Linked DNA regions of Homo sapiens: regions 1, 2 and 3 are each linked to region 4. The links come from fine-mapping of genetic effects on gene expression. A gene starts in region 4. Each other region holds a variant in brackets. All regions are shown on one strand. Distances are between the middles of the regions. Region 1 overlaps CCR3 (C-C motif chemokine receptor 3). Region 2 has its middle 41 kb from the start of CCR2. Region 3 holds the start of CCR1 (C-C motif chemokine receptor 1). Region 4 holds the start of CCR2 (C-C motif chemokine receptor 2).

The links.
Region 1: its variant is fine-mapped to the expression of CCR2 in monocytes after LPS (Quach 2016, PIP 0.95).
Region 2: its variant is fine-mapped to the expression of CCR2 in whole blood (INTERVAL, PIP above 0.99). The same link has a PIP of 0.9 or more in sun-exposed skin.
Region 3: its variant is fine-mapped to the expression of CCR2 in whole blood (TOPMed, PIP above 0.99). The same link has a PIP of 0.9 or more in blood mononuclear cells and monocytes.

What each region holds. Positions count from the first base shown.
Region 1 is chr3:46,246,986-46,252,188 of GRCh38, forward strand. All of the region lies in intron 1 of CCR3 (C-C motif chemokine receptor 3), which reads left to right. Among named protein-coding and RNA genes, the nearest start is that of CCR3, 7.1 kb to the left of the region's middle. The variant C/T (reference allele first, on the strand shown) is at 2,291.
Region 2 is chr3:46,310,255-46,315,457 of GRCh38, forward strand. It overlaps the pseudogene UQCRC2P1. Among named protein-coding and RNA genes, the nearest start is that of CCR2, 41 kb to the right of the region's middle. The variant T/C (reference allele first, on the strand shown) is at 3,094.
Region 3 is chr3:46,206,522-46,211,521 of GRCh38, forward strand. It overlaps CCR1 (C-C motif chemokine receptor 1), which reads right to left and starts at 1,792. Exons shown (of 2, transcript NM_001295.3): 1 at 1,761-1,792. It also overlaps a transcript of CCR3 not described here. The variant GTTC/G (reference allele first, on the strand shown) is at 1,931.
Region 4 is chr3:46,351,546-46,356,748 of GRCh38, forward strand. CCR2 (C-C motif chemokine receptor 2) reads left to right here and starts at 2,566. Exons shown (of 2, transcript NM_001123396.4): 1 at 2,566-2,632.

The DNA of each region.
Region 1 (5,203 bases), 100 kb before region 4:
TTTGTATGAATTGAAAAACTAAATGGAATAAGAGAAGGAGAAAAACAGGTATAAAAGGTCTAAGAATCGGGAGGACCTAGGACATCTGATTAGAGAGTGCCTAAGGAGATTCAGCATAGTCCTGCCAGCAAAGATTATTTATTTACTTCAAGAGTTAAGAGCGGCGGTTTGGGGATAGCACGAGGAGATATCAGCTGTGATGGCTTGAAAAAACAGTGTAAACTGGCAGTGTAAACAAGAGCAGGGCATGTATGAGTAGTTGAGAACAGAGAACAGGAGTATGACTAGATAGAAAATAGTAGGGATGACAAGTTTTTTTGGGGCACAGTCTAAGGTGGTCCGGTGTCTGGAATGAGACTGGGGGCCTAATGAAAAGGAGCATCTATACAGGAACTTAAATGGGCTGTACCTTATAGCATTCCGAGGACAGGTCTGACTTCTGAGAAGGGAAAGTGGTGAAAGTATTGTCCAGTTCTTTTTAAGTTGGTGGCTGAGCTTGGTGAGGTGTGTTTTTAAAAGACCTTTAGTCCGTTCTACTTTTCTTGAAGACAGAGGACTATAAGGGATATAAAGGTTTCACTGAATACTAAGAGCCTGAAAAACTGCTTGGCTGATTTGACTAATAAAGGCTGGTCTGTTATCAGACTGTATAGAGGTGGGAAGGCTAAACTGAGGAATTATGTCTGACAGAAGGGAAGAAATGACTGCGGTGCCCTTCTCAGACCCTGTAGGAAAGGCCTCTACCTATCTAGTGAAAGTGTCTACTTAGACTAAGAGGTATTTTAGTTTTTGTGACTCAGGGCATGTTGAGTAAAGCTAATTTGCCAGTCCTGGGCAGGGGCAAATCCTCGAGCTTGATGTGTAGGGAAGGGAGGGGGCCTGAATAATCCTTGAGGAGTAGTAGAATAGCACATAGAATAGCAGATGGAACACTGAGAAGTGATTTCCTTGAGGATAGATTTCTACAATGGAAAGGAAATGAGAGGTTCTAAGAGGCAGGCTAGTGGCTTGTACTATAGCATAGCCTGCCTTTGCTGGTGTGTGGTGATTAGGCCTGGTGGAACTGCCATCAATAAATCAAGCATGATCAGGGTGAGGAACAGGAAAGAAGGAGATATGGGGAAATGGGGTGAATGTCAGGTGGATCAGAGAGATACAGTCATGAGGGTCAGGTGTGGTTTCTGGAATAATGTGGGAGGCTGGACTGAAGTCCGGGCCAGGAATGATGGTAATTGTGGGAGACTTAACAAAGAGTGAGTACAGCTGAAGGAGCCAAGGAGCAGAAAGTATATGCATCAGGTATGAGGAAGAAAATAGATTTTGGAAGTTATGAGAAATGTAGAGAGTGAGTTGAGCATAGTTTGTGATTTTTAGGGCCTCTAAAAGTATTAAAGCAGTGGCAGCTGCTGCATGCAGACATGAGGGCTAGGCTAAAACAGTAAGATCAAGTTGTTTGGACAGAAAGGCTACAGGGTGCAGTCCTGGCTCTTGTGTAAGAATTCTGACTGCACTAACCATGCCTAGGAAGGAAAGGAGTTGTTGTTTTGTAAGGGATTGAGGTTTGGGAGATTAATCGGACAGGATCAGCAGGGAGAGCACGTGTGTTTTTATGAGAATTATGCCGAGATAGGTAACAGATGACGATGAAATTTGGGCTTGACTGAAGTAATGGGGGCTGTCTGTGAAACCTTGTGGCAGTACAGCCCAGGTAATTTGCTGAGCCTAATGGGTGTCAGGGTCAGTCTAAGTGAAAGCAAAGAGAGGCTGGGATGAAGGGTGCAAAGGAATAGTAAAGAAAGCATGTTTGAGATCCAGAACAGAATAATGGGTAGTAGAGGGAGGTATTGAGGATAGGAGGTTATATGGGTTTGGCCCCACGGGGTGGATAGGCAAAACAATTTGGTTGATAAGGTGCAGATTCTGAACTAACTTGTAAGGCTTGTCTGGTTTTAGGACAGGTAAAATGGGGGAATGGTAAGGAGAGTTTATAGGCTTTAAAAGGCCATGCCTTAGCAGGCGAGTGATAACAGGCTTTAATCCTTTTAAAGCGTGCTGTGGGATGGGATCTTGGCATTGAGCAGGGTAAGGGTGATTAGGTTTTAACGAGATGGTAAGGGGAGCATGATTGGTCGCCAAGGAGGGAGTAGAGGTATCTTATACTTGTGGGTTAAGGTGGGGGAATACAAGAAGAGGACGCAAAGGAGGCTTTGGATTGGGAAGAAGGGCAGCAATGAGATGCGGCTATAGTCCAGGAATAGTCAGGGAAGCAGATAATTTGGTTAAAATATCT[C/T]GGCCTAATAAGGGAACTGGGCAGGTGGGGATAACTAAAAAAGAGTGCATAAAAGAGTATTGTCTAAGTTGGCACCAGAGTTGGGGAGTTTTAAGAGGTTTAGAAGCCTGGGCATCAATACCCACAACAGTTATGGAGGCAAGGGAAACAGGCTCTTGAAAAGAAGGTAATGTGGAGTGGGTAGCCTCTGTATTGATTAAGAAGGGGATGGACTTACCCTCCACTGTGAGAGTTACCTAAAGCTCGGCATCTGTGATGGTCTATGGGGCTTCCGAGGCGATCAGGCTGTGTCAGTCTTCAGCCGCTAAGCCAAGAAGGAGTCAGTCAGAGAGCCTTGGGCCAGAGTTCCAGGGGCTCTGGGAGTGGCTGCCAGGTGAGTTGAACAGTCTGATTTCCAGTGGGGTCCCACACAGATGGGGGAATCCTGGGCTGCAGGCATTCCTTGGCCTGGTGGTCAGATTTCTGGCACTTGTAGCAAGCTCCTCGGGGAGGAGGTTCTGGAGGAACGCCTGGCCACTGCGGTTCAGGTGTTTGGAAGTTCTTGTGTGCTGGGGATGTGGCTGGGGTTTGTCTCACAGTGGAGGCAGGGAATTGCAACTTTTTTTTTTTATCATTGTACACCTTGAAGGTGAGGTTAATTAAGTCCTGTTGTGGGGTGTGAGGGCCAGATTCTAATTTTTGGAGTTTTATTTAATGTCGGGAGCAGATTGGGTAATAAAATGTATATTGAGAATAAGATGGCCTTTTGACCTTTTAGGGTCTAGGGCTGTAAAGCGTCTCAGGGTTGCTGCCGAATGAGCCATGAACTGGGCTGGGTTTTTATATTTGATGAAAAAGAGCCTAAACGCTTCTGATTTGGGATAAAGAAAAAGGAGCATTAACCTTGACTATGCCTTTGGCTCCAGGCACCTTTTTAAGAGTAAATTGCTGGGCAGGTGGGGAAGGGCTAGTGATGGAACGAAACTGTAAGCCGGACCAGGTGTGAGGAGGTGAGGCGATAAAAAGATTACAGGGTGGAGGAGTGGAGGCTGAGGAAGAATTGGGACCTAGCTTGGCCTGGCAAGGAGGGGAGAGGTCAGATGGGTCTGTAGAAAAGGAAGATTAGAAAGACTCAGCGATGCTTGGGGTTGGGACTGAGGGGACAGGCGGGAGGGAAACAAGGAAGATTTGGGACAAGTTGCACTGGGCACAGAGACTAGGAAGGGACTGATGTGTAAAAGAATGCCTGGACATCAGGCACCTCAGACCATTTGCCTATTTTAAGACAAGAATTATTTAGATCTTGTAGGATGGAGAAATCGAAAGTGCCATTTTCTGGCCATTTAGAGCCATTGTCAAGTTTGTATTGGAGCCAAGCAGTGTTGCAGAAGAAAATAAGGCGTTTAGGTTTTAGGACAGGTGTAAGTTGAGGTTTTAAGTTCTTGAGGACACAGGCTAAAGGAGAAGAAGGAGGAATGGAGGGTGGAATTTTGCCTATAGTGAAGGAGGCAAACCCAGAGAAAAGAGAGAGTAGAGACATGGAGGGAAGGGGTTCAGGGGTTCTTACCCTCCAGAAAAGCGGGAAGGGGGGTTGGGGCATGGAAATAAGGGATTGGGGCACAGAGATAAGAGGTCTGGGTGCGGAAATAAGGGATTGGGGCACAGAGATAAGAGGTCAGGGTGAGGAAATAAGGGATTGGGGTGCAGAGATAAGAGGTTGGGGTGCAGAAATAAGGGATTGGGGGTTCTTGCCCCCTAGAAAAGTGGGACTTGCCACTAAGAGTGAAGGAGAAGGGGTTGAGGGGTACTTGCCCCTCCCCCAGAAAAGCAGAGAAGGGGTAGAGACATGGAGAGAAGGGGTTGAGGTACTTGCCCCTTTCCCAGAAAAGTGGGACTTGCTGCTAAGGGTGAAGGACCAAGGCAGGCGTCCCTGCGTGGTCTGACACCCTTGAAACGTGGGTGAATAATCAGAGAGGCGTCCCTGCAATGATTAAACACCAAGGGAAGGCTGCCTTCCCAGTCTGTGACCGGCGCCGGAGTTTTGGGTCCATGGATAAAAGGTGTCTCCTTTGTCTCTACCAGAAAATGAAAGGAATTGAAATTAAGAGAAGGGAGAGATTGAAGTGTGGCGCCAAGATTGAAAGGAGAAAGAGGTTGAGGGATAGTGAGGGAGGTTGGAGAAGAGAGTAAAAAGAGGCCGCTTACTGGATTTGAAGTTGGTGAGATGTTTCTTGGGCTGGTCGGTCTGAGGACCTGAGGTCGTAGGTGGATCTTTCTCACGGAGCAAAGAACAGGAGGACAGGGGATTGATCTCCCAAGGGAGGTCCCACAATCCGAGTCACGGCACCAAATTTCATGTGCATCCTTGTGAAGAGACCACCAAACAGGCTTTGTGTGAGCAACATGGCTGTTTATTTCACCTGAGTGCAGGCGGGCTGAGTCCGAAAAGAGAGTCAGCAAAGGGAGATAAGGGTGGGGCTGTTTTATAGGATTTGGGTAGGTAAAGGAAAATTGCAGTCAAAGGGGGTTTGTTCTCTGGCAGGCAGGAGTGGGGGTCACAAGGTGCTCAGTGGGGGTGATTTAAAATCACCTAGCCAGGATGAGCTAGGAAAAGGACTTTCACAAGGTAATGTCATCACTTAAGGCAAGGACCAGCCATTTACACTTCTTTTGTGGTGGAGTGTCATCAGTTAAGGTGGGGCAGGGCATATTCACTTCTTTTGTGATTCTTCAGTTACTTCAGGACATCTGGGCATATATGTGCAAGTCACAGGGGATGCAATGGCTTGGCTTGGGCTCAGAGGCCTGACACTTTCTACATGTGGTTATTTAAATTAAATAAAATGAAAAGTTCAGTTTCTCAATTGCAGTAGCCACATTTCAAGTGCTCAATAGCCATGAGGCTAGTTTCTGTCTTTTTTTTTTTTTTTTTTT
Region 2 (5,203 bases), 41 kb before region 4:
CCATAATTTTTTTTTTAAATTTTCTGTCTGTTGTTCAGATTAGGTCATTTCTATTGTTCATTCTTCCAGTTCACTGATTCTTTTCTCTGTCTCCTCCATTCTGCTCTTGAACCCATCCAGTCAGTTTTCTTCTAACATTTAAGCAAAATGTTTTATTGACTTTAGGTAAGCTGGGAATAATTGCCTACATTTATGCTTTAAGGCATTTTACCTCATTGTAAAAAAAAAAAAAAACAAAACACACAAAGATAAATGTTAGATACTTCTGGCTTTCATGTGTTTGAGGCTCTGGGCTGAGAGAATGTTCAGCCCTTTCCTATAATATGTGCTTCTGTATTACAACTCATCAACCAAAGGTGTATGTTCCAATTGTTGCCATTAACAAGTAGAAGTTTGTTTCTAGCCAGAAGCAAACTTCTTTGCAGAATTGATGATGACAGCACTAGCCAACCAACTAATCTACTGAAGGACTGGTGATATTGGCTTGTAAGAACCAGTAACTACAGCCTGGGGCCTGACTTCTTCTATGAAACCCTCGGAAGACTTCACTTATATTTGGTATCCAGCTTTCAGTTTGTTCTTGGCAGCCTGGACATTGAAAAGCTTTTCTTGAGCAATTATTTCCACTTGGTTATAGGTAGCCTTGATAACATCTCCAGCAGCTGCAGCCTGGAAGACAATGTACATCCTGAAGAGTCCAAAATTGGAGTAACTAGCATTAAAAACAGAAATAGCAAGTGGCTGGTGAATTGCCTTGGCAATAGCCTGCTATAGATAGCTGGTGGCATCACTGTGCCCCTTGACATATGGTGTCCCTCTTGATATGCTGAAAAACACTAAATGCATTTGCTGTGCCCTTCTTGTGGCAGCACTTTCTGCTACAAGAGCAAGCATGGACAAGACTGTCTCCATTTTGTTCCTGAATTTCACCTCCAGAGTATTTGGCTTTTGTACCAGACAAAAGAAACCCACCCCTCCTGTTGAGAAACTATTCAGCAACTTGCTTTAGAACAGGGTGACTCACACCAAGTCCAACCAAGCCATTCTTGCACTTGTGAAGTGGTTCTAAACATAGTAATGTAACTCTTCCCATGTCACTTTTCCAATCCTATAGCCAGGACAATACAAGGAATTAGCCAAGGCATCCCAATAAGCTTCAGTATGCAAATTTTCAATGACATGTGCCTGTGGATTCTGAAAATTCACAGATCTGTCTATCCTTAGCTGAGACTGAAGGCATCTACTTCCCAATGACCAAATCCTGGTGCTGTGGCGACACTGAGCAGGAACTCCATTAGAATATCAATATCACTCTGCAGACATTCCATGATGTAAGCTATGTTTTCTCTTGTTGCAATTACACTTAATTTACCACCAGCTGCTTCAATGTCATGGGCTATCTTGAAAAATGAAGCTCCTTTCGTAGTCAAACTGGATGCAAGACACAGCAAATGAGAAGTTACTAAATTGTTGGAGTCCTCATAGCTACTGCCTGCTTTAATGAACAAACCAATTCTTGATGCAGGGCATAGTTTTCCAAAGGAGAAATCATAAAACCATTTGGAAATTTGATGATCTCAAGGTCCTGATGATGTGGAGCCACTCCTATGGGGGTAGCTGTGGCTTTAACTTTGGGGGCAACTTTGAGGGAATAAAGTCTCAAAAAGAGGGAATAAAGTCTCAAGATTGTTCGTGACCCATAGTAACTTCTGGCTTAAAGGACCATTCGGCAAGTTTTTAAATGTATTTTCTATAATTTCCATGTAGTTCTTTATATTTTCTATTTCTTATTTAAAACCTCTATTTTAGCTCGTTTCCTTTGACACTGCTCTGGCAGGGAAAGGGGTGGCACTGCCTCATTACTGCCAGGTAGGGGTAGAAGTCCATTATCCACTTGGTCTCCATTGATACCCAAAGTGGGGAGAGGCTCCTGTTACTGCTGGTGAGGGTGGGAGTCCCCCCACTAAGTTTCTGCTAATACTGTCCTGGTGGCTTGCTACTATTCCCATGAAGCCTCCACTGATACTACATTACTTTTGGGTGGTGGCAAATGTCCTGCCTCTCCACTAGCCCTCCTGCTCTAAAACAACCCGAGTAGGGAGTGGGAAGGAAGCTTTGTTACTGGTAGGTGGGAGCTGAAGTCCAGACTTGCCACATTGTCCCACTGATGCTACAGGGAGGAGGAAGCGGGCCACATTACTGCCTGATAGGGATGAAAGCCCCAGCTCCCTACCTGGCCTTCGCTGATACCAGCCTGCTACAGGAGTGAAGAGAGATTTGAAGGCCTCAATATAGCCTGTCGAGGGTGGAAGTCTTGCTCCCAATGGGCCTTTAGCAGCATGGGTGGGTGTGGGGCCATAGCTGTCTCTGTACTGCTTGGCTAGAGTGGAGTATTTGAGGTCCAAAAGTTTTCTGTCTTTCTAGCCCTTTGGTTAGAAAGAGCAGACTTTTGTTGGAAGTATTTTTTTGTGTTTACCTGTTGTATTTCCAGGTTCCTAGCTTCTCCAGCACAGTCTGGGATGTGTGAGACACAGAGAAAATCCAGTGATGTTACTACCGTATGGTTTCTTGGGTCCCAACGTCTCTAGCTAATCTGCTCCACCTTTTGGAGTTTTCTTATTTGTTTTAGATCAGGGATTTAGTCATATTTAATAGGAGAAATATGGAAAAATACTTCTACTCTATCTTCCTGGAAGTTCCTGTTTATTTTTTATGTCCTTTTCCTCTGGCTAGACCGTAAGAGACTTACGAAACAAACACTTACACATTCTACTAAACTCAATGTCCAAAGTTTGTGAACTTCTTGAATATTGCTTGTTCATTTCCACCCCCAGTCACTGACTGAATCTCCCTGCTGTCTGTCTACAATGCCAATGAGCTTCTGGTTAACTTCTTCTCATGCATGCTTAGGCAACAACTTCCCAGTTTTACTACACTTGCCCATCCCTAGTTTTGTTGTTGCTTAATCCCTTGGCCTAGTGCCACCATACTCCTCCAGCAGAGCAACCAATTCTTACATTATAGGACAGCACATATCCACTAAAAACAGTTCATGCCACACCAACCACATTTCCCTTTGTCAACAAAATTACT[T/C]GATAGATAATTCCAGGAATGCCTGATGAAGCTGATTGACAACAAGATATTTGGCAGACTCTCTGCTGCCTATACATACCTTAGCATGTGGAACTCAAGTAATGAGAGGTCCATTTAATTGGATTGAATTGGGCTGGATAGGATTGGATTGAATCCTGTGGGATGGCTAGGCTAAATTAGAAATGAAGACTAGTTTAACAGCAGTATCCAAGGATAGTTGACTAATGAGTTAATTTTACTCTCAAAGACAGTCTTTAGTAGTAAGCTGTAATGCATTATATCAAACTATTTTCCAGTCAATGATTTATAAGTTACTTGAATAAGGATGCTAAAGATGTGCCTTATTGAAATGGCAATTAGCACAAAGTTGGGAATGAAATCTAATTAGTTAAATAACAGAATCACATAAAAAAGGACTTGAATAAATGTAGCATCCTACCATGTTCCTGGATAGAAAGACTGCTATCGTAAAGATATTCATTCTCCTCAGGTTAAATTATAAACTCAATGCAATTCAACAGGATTTTAAAAAACTAGACAAAGTGATTCCAAGTTTACGTGGAAAATAAAATGTGAGGGACCAAACAATATTTGAAAAAGAAAGAGAATAAAATCTCATCCTTCCAGATACCACAATGTATTATAAAGCAATAGTAATTAACATGAGGGCAGAAATGAGCAAGCAAGTGAACAAAATAAGACAGATAGTCACAGGAAACTCATATATTTATAGGTGCTTTGCGTATAATGAAGATGGTCCTTCAAATCAGTTGGGAAAAGATGGGTTATTCAATAAATGGTGTTGGGTAAAATTGGTTATACATTGGTGAGAAATAAAGTGAAACTCCTACTTTGTATCATATGCAAAAAATAGATTCCAGACAGATGAAATATTTAAATGTAAAAAATAAAATTCTAAAACTACTAGAAAAAAAAGAAGAATATTTTTATTCCTTTGAAATAGAAAAGGTCTTACTAAGCAAAACACAGAAGTAATAAATGAATAAATGAAGACAAATATGATAAAAATAAGTTAAAAATATAAGCAATCTTTCTTTGTTTTTTTTTCACCTTTCCTAGAAAAAAATATATAGGCAACTTGTTAAGCAAGGTAGATTACAAGAAAATATTTACAACATTTGACAGGCCACAGATTATTATCCAGCCTCATCTGATAAGAAAACTTCAACATAAAGATATCTGTTTTTTTTCTTATAAGGTTCCTCAAAGTGAGCCAATCACTTCTTAAGCTGAACAAAAAACAAAACAGAAGTGATCTTTTCCAATAATGAAAACAAACATTGACAGAGCAGCTGTAGGATCCTTTCAGGCAAATTATGAAAAGGTGCCCTTTCTCAGAAACCACAGTTACCATTCAGCTTTGTGACCAGAGGTTTGACTGTACCCTAGTCCCTACTAGCAACCCAACCACATAACCAACTTCAAAGGTCCTGAATGACTGTGTTGTACTTAATGGCAGATGATCTATCTCCCATTTTTGTCCTAAGGATTTTCCAAGATAATATATTTCTGCATTTGTTTTGCTTTTACTTCACTCCAAATTGAAATCTATTTGTGGGATAAGACTAAAGAAATGCTTATAGGAAAATTGATAGCACCAAATTCCTATCTTAAAAAATGAAAAAGGTTTCAAATCAATGACCTCAGCTTTTACTTTAAGAAAATAGAAAAAGCAGGATAAGCTAAAGCCAAAGTAAACAGAAGAAAGGAAATTATAAAGATAAGAGCAGAAATCAATGAATAGAAAACAAAAGAAAAAAATCAAACCAAACAGCTGATTCTTTAAGCAGATCTATAAAATTGATAAAACTCTAGCCAGATTGATCAAGTAAAAAAGAGAGAAGACACAAATTACCAGTATTAAGAATGAGAGAGGCAATATCACTACAGATCCTACAGATATAAAAAGTATAAGGGCATACTTTGAATAATTTTATGACTATAAATTAGGCAACTTAGATAAAACAAATTTCTTGAAAGACACAAACAACCAAAGCTCACCTAAAATACTCACAAATTGAATAGTCTTATAGCTATTACAAAATTGAGGCCAGGCGCAGTGGCTCAAGCCTTTAATCCCAGCACTTTG
Region 3 (5,000 bases), 150 kb before region 4:
TGCAAATAGCTTGGAAAGCACAAAGAGCAGCTAGTGCAAGCCTGATCCCATGAGTCCAGTTTCTGGGAAGGTTTGGCAAAGGCAAAGGCAAGTTGAGTCAACATTGTCAGGTGGCATTTTAAACCGAGTCACCTCCATACACCCCCTACCTCCAACCCATTTGTTATTTCCCCAACTTGTTAAGCCCCAGGCAACCACTCCAAGGCATGCTGTTCCTAAAGGGAGGTGATCTGGGGTGGGGCCCGAGAAGAGAAACCAAAGGACCATGTTGTCATCTAATCTGCCAGCCCTGCTGTAGTCTACTGCAGAAGTCTGCCTCAAGGCCACTGCACAGTGGTCAGCTATAGCCCTGGATCCTGGACCCTCCACTGCTAGTGTCCTCCAGCCTGGGAGTTGGTGAAGTCTCTGAGCAGAGATAGAGCAGTCTGTGATGGTGAAAGACACCCAGGCCTATGGTGCGCTGGCTGGCTTATACTGGTTTATAAATGCCAATTGCGTGCATCTCTTCCCCACTCCACATTCAGCATGTTGGTAGCTTGAAACTGACCACAGTGGGGGCATTTATACCATGAAAATCAACAAATGTTATAAAGCAGGGATCTTTTCTTCAGAAGAGTCAGTTGTTGAACATTTACCAGCACATCACTGCCCAGGCCCCACATTCTGAACAGTCCAGCACTGTCCCACTGCTCGGTGCGGGAACTAAAGGATCAGTGAGTGGCACATAGCCTGGTGCCAGGTTGTGCAAACTTTTGGGAGTTTCCATCTCTTCTTTGAAATCTGGGACCCACCAAGACCACCTATGAAGTAGATACCTATACGGAGCCACCATGCCCCTCTATCTTCAGAACAAAATCCTGACCTGTGTCTTTGTTAGTAGAGCAGAACAGATGCCCCCCAAGATCACCTGGCCAGCTCCTTGCCTTTGGGTGAGTGAAAGCCTACCTCTTCCAAAGATAGCAGTGCCAATTTTGAGGATCCTTGGTTCTAGTCTTCTTAAGAGATAGGTTCAGTATCAAATCATCCTTGCATCTGCCAAGATTTTTCTAGCTAATATTTCCCTCTTGCTATAATTTCTTCATACACCATGTTTGGTTTTCCTTTACATGGGGGAATTTGGCAAGCAATTTTTTTTTTTTTTTCAGACAGACTCTTGCTCTGTCGCCAGGCTGGAGTGTAGTGGTGCAATCTCAGCTCACTGCAACCTCCACCTCCCGGATTCGAGTGATTCTCCTGCCTCAGCCTCTTGAGTAGCTGGGACTACAGGCATGCGCCACCATGCCCGGCTAATTTTTATTTTTAGTAGAGACAGGGTTTCACCATATGGCCAGGATTGTCTCCATCTCTTGACCTCATGATCCACCTGCCTCGGTCTCCCAAAGTGCTGGGATTACAGCCGTGAGCCACTGCGCCCCGCCAAGTAATTTCTTATTGAATAGGTTTCCACAGAAAACACCTTTTGTCCCTTAGTACTGACTGACTTTCTTAATCAGTAACCAAAAGCCAATCCTTCAAGTAAGCTTCCTTTTTAGCAAAAAAGCCTATATTTCATCTGAGCACCCAGCTTTATAAATCCACCATTCTCAGTATTGCTACAGTATTAATTGCCTTGGAGATGCATCCATGGGCTACTTAGACATTTGCCCAGCCTACTCAAAGAATTCCCCCTACCTTTGAGGAGCCCCTAGCTGCATGCATGTCTTTGAACAACACTGCCCTCCACAGTAACAGATAAGACAGAAAAGACAAGTGACACTTACTCTGGTTCCAAGGGACTTTGTCCGTGAAGTCTTTGTTTCTGGGGCTTTCTGGGTTTTTATGAATTCAAGTTTCAAGATCCTGACCAAGTAGGAAGTACTCAGCTTCCTGTGTGATGATGGAGAATTGGCTCCAGTTTCACAGTCTTTCAAAATGACAAGAAAGGGACAAA[GTTC/G]TTCTTTTTGTGTGGTTTGGTGCTCATGAATGGCCACAACGCCCACCAGTGGCCACTTCCTGGAAGCCAAGTTAACTGCGAGGATTTTCTCTGCTCACTCTGAGCCTCTTGAGTCTTGGCCCTGGGAGCTCAGCCTTAAGGGAATTGGGGGCAGGTGAAGCTGAGTTGGGTGAGGTGGGTGGCAGTGAGATGTTCCCAGAATGTTTGGAGCAATTGAAGTGTGGGATGTGTGTATGTGGGATGGGGGCAGGGCATAGAGCTCTTGTGGTCAGCGGCAGACTTCTTTTTTTTCTTCTTCTTAAAGATTGTGAATGGAAGGATTTAAACTGGAACCCTGAGTCCTGTTCCTCAAAACTAACTGACATGGGTGCTCACAGAGGCAGCAGCTTCTCTTTGGCACCCTATGCCCCTCGGCTTCTGGGAGCTCATTGTCCCTCTGCTCTCTGCTCCCCAAGTCCCTCCCCACCAAACCTCAGAGAGTGGCTTTGCCCCAGGAACCTCCAGCATGAAGGGAATATAGGTCTGTTGGTTACATTTTGACCTTCCCTTTCTGATGCCCCATTCCTGTTTTACGTGATGGTCAAACATGGGCCAAGTTCAAATCCCAGCTCTCCACCTGTGACATGGGCAGATCACTCACCTTTCTAAGTCTTGGTTCCTACTCTGCTAAATGGGAGTATTGAATGCTTACCTCAGAGGAGAAGCACGAAGTCAACTTGTACATGAAAAATGTCAGAGTGCCTGGCACAGTGAAAAATGTCTGACAAATGATGAGTACTGTGACTCTCCTCACAACTGCCAACACCTACTCTGCCTCTGCCCTTGTGTCTTCTATAAAGTGGGGACACCCCTAACCTTCCTCACGGCATTGCTACAAAGCACTGTTTCAGAAATCATCAGTGTGAATGTGCTTTGAAAAGATCACTTGTCTCTTCATGGTTCAGTTTTCTTATCTGTAAAATGAAGAATTCAGACAAGATGGCCTAAGCTTGACATCTGATCATCACTCAGCTTCACCCCAAAGAAATAAATGGGGGTCTGCATGTGCCTGGCTATTTGCAGTACTTTGCTGGTGGATCAGTTTCCAAAGAGAACAGAGGCTTGTGAGGCCTGCCTTTTCCTTGATCCTGTCTAAAGTAAGGGACATGGTCAGTACCTCATCCTTGACCAGGCTTCCAGCTCTGCTCTAGGTTTCATTCCACAGAGGGGATGTACCAGGCAAATCTGCTTGTTCATTGAACAAATATTTATTCAGTACTCACAATGTGCCGGACATTGTGTTAGGTGCTTGGGATATAGTGGTGAAGAAAGAGGCTGGATCCATTCTTTGAGAGCTTATAGCTTAGGAAGGATCACAAACAATTAACCAAGTTACCACAATGAGGAACAGCTTTTGTAGTGGCCTGGGAAATACCCTGGGCTAAGGAAGGGTGCATCGAGGGTGGGAAGGGGTGAGGAAGTCCTTTAGAGCAGTGGTTCTCAAAGTGAGGTCCCTGGACCAGCAGCATTCACATTCCCTGGGACATTGCTAGCCATGCAAGTTCTGGGGTTACATGCCAGATATACTGACTCAGAAATCCTGGGGATGCGGCCAAGCAATCCAGGTTTTGACAAAGACTGGCATGATTCTGATGCATGCTTAAATTTGGGGGGCATGGATCTAGATTTTCTCAATGCTTTTGGCTCAGAGTCCCATGTGATCTTTCTTCAGAAGAGTTAGGCTGGACCAGCTATGAGCTAGGAAGCCTTCTTTCTCTCTTTAGCTCAAGGCCTAAACAAGAGGCTGCTCAGTTGCCTGCTCTGTCTCCCCTCCCACACCCACACTCAGGTCTCCTATGGCCTTGCAAACCCCTTAGTGCACACACCCCTCTCACCACAGCAGATGTGTACAATGGGGGCAGCACAGAGAGACAAGAGAGAAACCAGCAAAGAGGGATGACCTTGCTCCATTCATTTCTCTTAAAAGCCCTTTGACTCCTCTCCTTAAAAGCTGTAGTGTTCTCTCAAGGTTGCCGTATTGTCCTTGATCCACATCAATGTTCCTCTTCCTTGGAGAGAAGGGGGAGATGTGGGCAGCTTCCTTTGCCCCAGAGAGGTTGCAGTGGAAGCCCAGCACTAAGCCAAACCCTGTCCTGAGACAGCCTTCCACCCCAGCCTTGGCACCAATGTTCAGGGAAGAGATGCAGGGGACCCTGCCAGTGGTGGATGTGGATGACTCTGTCTTTAACACCTGCAGAGCTCATGGACCCTGGCCGTCATCAGGTTCAACCTCATATTCAACTGCTGGGCCTTGTCTTCTGGCCACACACTCTCTCCAAATCAGCGATGGTGGGGAACTGAGGAGCCAGAGGCCATTGTGGAAGAACTCCAAGAAAACAATCTCCAGGTTATCACATCTAAAGCCTGAGCAAGATTTGAGGCTGGGAAGAGGTGGATCCCAGAATTGGAAGAAGGTAGGTGAAACCAGTGTTGCCTCCGCTATGTTAGAGTCACATGGAAGCTTGAAGGACAATTGACTCCTAGGCCCACCCCCAGATATTCTGATGTACTTGGTCTAGGGTGCAGCCTGGGCATTGGAATTTTAATATGTTAAAAAATCTGAGAACTAGAATCCCTGGCCTAAAGCAATGGTTCTCGAATTTGAATATCCATCAGAATCTACAGAGGGCTTGTTAAAACAGATTTCTGGACTTATCTCCAGAGATTAAGTTCAGTAGGTCTGGAATGGGGCCTGAGAATTTACTTTTTTTTTTTTTTTTTTTTAGACAAGGTCTTGCTCTGTCGCCCAGGCTGGGGTGCAGTAGCATGATCATGGCTCACTGCAGCCTCAACCTTCTGGGCTCAAGTGATCCTCCCACTTCAGTCTCCTAAGTAGCTGGAACCACAGGTGCATGGCACCACACCTGGCTAATTTGAAAAAATATGTATATATATATATATATATTTTTTGTAGAAATGGGTGTGTTATCATGTTGCCTAGGTTGGTCTCAAACTCATGGGCTCTAGTGACCCTCTTGCCCCAGCCTCCCAAAGTGCTGGGATTACAGGTGTGACCTGTGATCCCACC
Region 4 (5,203 bases):
CACAAAGCATAGGGATGACAGACCACCTCACCATCCCTGTTGCTTCTTTTAAGCCTGCTCACCCCTCCAAAAATATTTTCATTCTATACTGTCTCTTCAAAATCTCAGCGGAGGGTGCCCTCTGTTATCCTGCCCTCTGTGTCAGTATAAGCCAAAGGTTTGAATCCTGGCTCTGCAACTATCTACCTCTGTGCCTCTCCTTGTTTATGAAATTACAGGGCTGGAGACAAAGATCACAATGTGAAGACAAAATTGGAGAGCGGTCCTAATCAGCCAGAGCAAAATTTCTGGCTCTTGCTCTTCCCCATCCTGGGTTGAATCATAGGAACAGGTGGCAAGATGCCAGGGTCAGGAGATTCCAGAAGTGGCAGCAAGCTCAGTGTTACCAGGTCAGGGATGACCTGTCTTATTATTGAAATCTCAGAGATATGCTCCAATTCCGGCCCAGAGACACATTGAGAGACAACTGGGGAACTTGCTATGTTCCTGAACAGGCAATGAGCTGTCTTCCAAGAAAAAACCTGAGACCCTTCAAGTCTCAGGTCTTACTTAGCACATATACCAGGTCTTACACAGGACACATGGTTACAACTGACTGAAATCTGGGCTGGGTGTAGGAGCTCACACCTGTAATCCCAGCCCTTCAGGAGGCTGAGGCAGGCAGATTGCCTGAGCCCAGGAGTTCGAGACCAGCCCGGGCAACATGACAAAACCCCATCTCTACAAAAAATAGTCAGGCATGGTGGCATGCACCTGTAGTCTCAGCTACTTGGGAGGCTGAGATGAGAGGATTGCTTGAGGTTGAGACTGCAGTGAAGCATGATCATGCCACCGCACTCCAGCCTAGGCAACAGAGCAAGATCTTGTCGCAAAAGAAAGCAAAAACACAACATAACACAACAACAACAACAACAACAACAACAGCAAAAAAGCCAACTTCTTGAAATCTGGAAAGGACACCTGGACTGCCCTGAGCATTTGATTGTTGTTGGCTCTAGCAGTGGATGCATCCTTCAACCTCTGGCACTCTGCAGGGCTCAGACTGTTCTGTTCTGTTTGTTACCTGTGGAGTGCCTGCCAGACCCTGCTCTAGCTGCTTTAGGTCCATTTACCCTCATAGACCCCCAGTCTTGTTATTCATATTTCATATTTGGGAAATGGAAACTTAGAAACTTGCCAAGTCCACAGCATGAGATCCTGCCTCCGGTGTCTGCTGGATTCCAGAAAGTGCCAGGGGCCAACTTAGATGACACCATGTTCTCTGCACAATCTTAGGAATGCTCCTAGTCTGATGTCCCCATTGCAAAATTTACATTATCTTTTAACAAAACGTCTTTCCAAGGAGGGGCATTTAAAATAACTGAGGTTCTTCTTGCTAAGGACGTTCCTGACACAAGAGATAATTTAGCATTTCCTTTTCATTAAAAAGTTTGAAATCCTGTAATTTGTGATAATGTGGATGAACCTAGAGGATGTTAAGTGAAATAAGCCACACACAGATAGACAAATACCACGTGATCTCACTCTTATGTGGAATTTTTTTTTAAATAAGTTGCTTAGCCGGGCATGATGGCACACACCTGTAATCCTAGCTACTCAGGAGGCTGAGGTGGGAGGATGGCTTGAACTCAGAAGGTGGAGGTAGCAGTGAGCTGAGACTGTGCCAGTGCACTCCGGTCTGGGTGACAGAATGAAACCCAATTTAAAAAAAAAAAAAAAGTTGCTATCTTAGAAAAAGACAGTAGAGCAGTGGTTACCAGAGACTGGGGAGGAAAGAGAGGAGGTGAGAATGGGCAGCAGTTGATCAACGGGTACAAAGTTACCATGAGATAGGAGAAACAAGTGCTGGTGCTCTGCTCCAAGTAGGGTGACGGTAGTTAATAATGAATTCTGTATATATAAATAGCTAGAAGAGAGGGTTTTCAATATCATTATTATTTCAAAAGAAATGATAAATGTTTCAGAGGATGGATATGTAATTACCCTGATTTGATCATTGCACAATGTATACATGTAGCAAAACATCACATTGTGTCCCATAAATATATACAATTATTATGTGAATTAAATAAAAAAAAATTTTAAAGTCTTATCTAAATGAAATTTCTAACCAGATTCTGAATCCATGATACCACTGAAACCAGCACACATGATCGCAGTAAAACCTCATTATACTTCCTCCACTATCACCAATACCCTTTATTCTCTGGAACATGAAACATTCTGTTGTGCTCATATCATGCAAATTATCACTAGTAGGAGAGCAGAGAGTGGAAATGTTCCAGGTATAAAGACCCACAAGATAAAGAAGCTCAGAGTCGTTAGAAACAGGAGCAGATGTACAGGGTTTGCCTGACTCACACTCAAGGTTGCATAAGCAAGATTTCAAAATTAATCCTATTCTGGAGACCTCAACCCAATGTACAATGTTCCTGACTGGAAAAGAAGAACTATATTTTTCTGATTTTTTTTTTCAAATCTTTACCATTAGTTGCCCTGTATCTCCGCCTTCACTTTCTGCAGGAAACTTTATTTCCTACTTCTGCATGCCAAGTTTCTACCTCTAGATCTGTTTGGTTCAGTTGCTGAGAAGCCTGACATACCAGGACTGCCTGAGACAAGCCACAAGCTGGTGAGTTGTAGGCATTTTTTCCATTACTTTCTGATTCATAGGCTCAACGCACCTCAAAGCTGGAAATGCCGGGTCTGGGTACACCCTGGGGAACTGCAAAGCCTGCACACTTGGGGGGAATGATCAAGATGAGAGGCAGGGGTGGGGATGGCATGTGCACCAGGAGATGTTAGAGAAACCCTGAGGAAGAGCAGCGTGCAGCAGGTGATGGGGGAGAGTGGGCAGCAAGCGAGGCCAGGACAGCCACTCTGCTCAGTCACCAGTCCACACACCCAGGGGCTCACTCTGCCCCTCTGAGCACCCAAGGACGTTAAAGAGCTGGAACTGTTAGTCTAAATATAGGACCATCCAAGCTCTGAACCAAAATGTGTCCCTTGCCTCAACTCAGGAGATCCACAGAGGCAGAAGTAAGGAATTTATTTTCTGAAAGATAGATTTCTATCAGTTCTGGGTGACATGTTCTGACACTTGAAATGACACCTAGGACAGCACATTTCAGGCATCTTGCTCATTGTTCACTGTAGTAGAAGCTACATGCTAGCCAGTTGTAAAAATGAAATTAAGTAATGTGTGCACAGCATTTAACATAGCATCTGAGCTTCAGGAGCACTCAATTAATGACCACAGTTGTGATTCTTTAGGCAGATGCATTTTTTTCCAACTTTGATCAGAGGTCTTATTTAGCTTCTCCAGATTTCAAGAATCTGGCTCAGTGATATGAAATACAAGACTTGTGAAAAGTGTCAATTGCAAGAGAAATGGAAGGATAAAGTATACAGGTGGGTGGAAAAGAAATTCACAGTCACTGCCAGAAAAAAAATTCTTGAGAATCAAGTCCTGATGATGTTAGGGCTTATAGTTCTTATTATAAAGAGTTTTATGTACTCATTCAGTGAACATTTATTGGTGCCTCCTTTAGCCAGGTACTATCATAAGAGCTGAAAATAGAAGCATAATCCAGTCCTTGATCTTGAGGAACATGCTGTGTGTAGCAGATAACATAATAAGTGCTTATCTAGATGCATGCAGTGTTATGTGATAAGAGTAATATGACAGAGGATACAGATTAGGCTTCACAGAGAAGGGGGATTTGAGCAGGAGGTATTGAAGGGTGAATAGAAGCTCACCAATCATTTTGGGCAGAGGGGCAAGGACCTGCAAAACCACTGAAGCATGAAGGAAATGGTGAGTTTAGGGAAAATGAAGAGAAGATGGCTGTGACTGAAGCACAGGATTTGGGATTGGAGAAGGGACTGGAGGTGAGGCTGAAAAGAGGCAAACTCAGAAAAGATGTTGTGCTGGGCAGTCTGGACATTATCTTTGAAGCCCACCACATATAAGTCATAGGGCTACTGGAGGTTTTAAGCTAAGAGTGACTATTCAATTTCAACTTAAGAGAAGATAGGTTGAGAGGGAACATGGCTTGAGATGAGCCATGAGCAAAGGAAAGACTACAACAAAGCCAGGAGTGAGGAGTGTGTGAAGCAAGAAAGTGACAGTTGAAAGCAGTGCAGAGGGGATGAATCTGAGAGGCATCTATGAGGTGGAACTCAAATGACATGATAATAATACAGGGCATTTCTCTGTGTCAGATGCTGTCCTAAGTCCTTACTCCATTGATCTTCACAGCAACTCAGCATAGTTAATATTTTATGCATAAAGAAATCGGCACTTGAAGGAGTAATTGGCCCCAGATTACACTGCCTATAAGGATTCAAATCCAGGTTTGTTTGGCTCCAAAAACTGGCTCCTAATTTTCAGAAGGAGAAGCAACCCAGGGCAATGCCCAATTTTGCTTCTTAGGCAATGGAGGAATCCACAATCGGAAGGAGTTTTCAGCAGTGCCCCATTTGGGGTGGGTTGAATTTGAGGTCCCTGCATGATACCCACTTTGCTCACTTCAGTGCCTAAAACTGAGTATGGTTCATAGTAGGTGTTCAATAAGTGTTGATGCAGTGAATACATGCATGGGGAGATATGCATCAGGCAATGGGAAATTCAACTCTAAGGCTTAGGGGAAAGCTGGAGCTTGAAGACAGAGCTTTAGAAAACAGTAGCATAGAAGGGAGTAGGAACCATGAGTTTAGACAATACAATTCAGGAAGAACTTTGTAGCAAGGATAAAGAGGCAAAAAATTAAAGAGGTGAGAGCTAAGTGTGGTGCCTGGGGAATCTTAAGGTGTGGGCACGGGGAGGAGATGCCAGCAAAGAACATGAATAAAAAGCGGTAGCACAGCCCCTCCCATCTGGAAGCCAAAAAGAATTGTAAATGGAGGAAGTTAGCAGAAGGATCAAATACTTGAAGAGGGTGGAATTGGAATAAAACCAGGGCATTTGAAAAATTGGGTTGTCACTGCAATCTTAACAAGAGAAGTTTTGGCAGGATGATGGAGGCAGAAAGCTGAGAGAATCATCAGTTAGAACGTTTTTGACTTCAGAGAACAGAAAATGCAGTTCATAATGGCTTTAAAACAGGGGCTTGTTTTTCTCCCAGCAATTTGAGAGGCCAAGGCGGGTGCATCAGGAGGTCAAGAGACCGAGACCATCCTGGCCAACATGGTGAATCCCCAT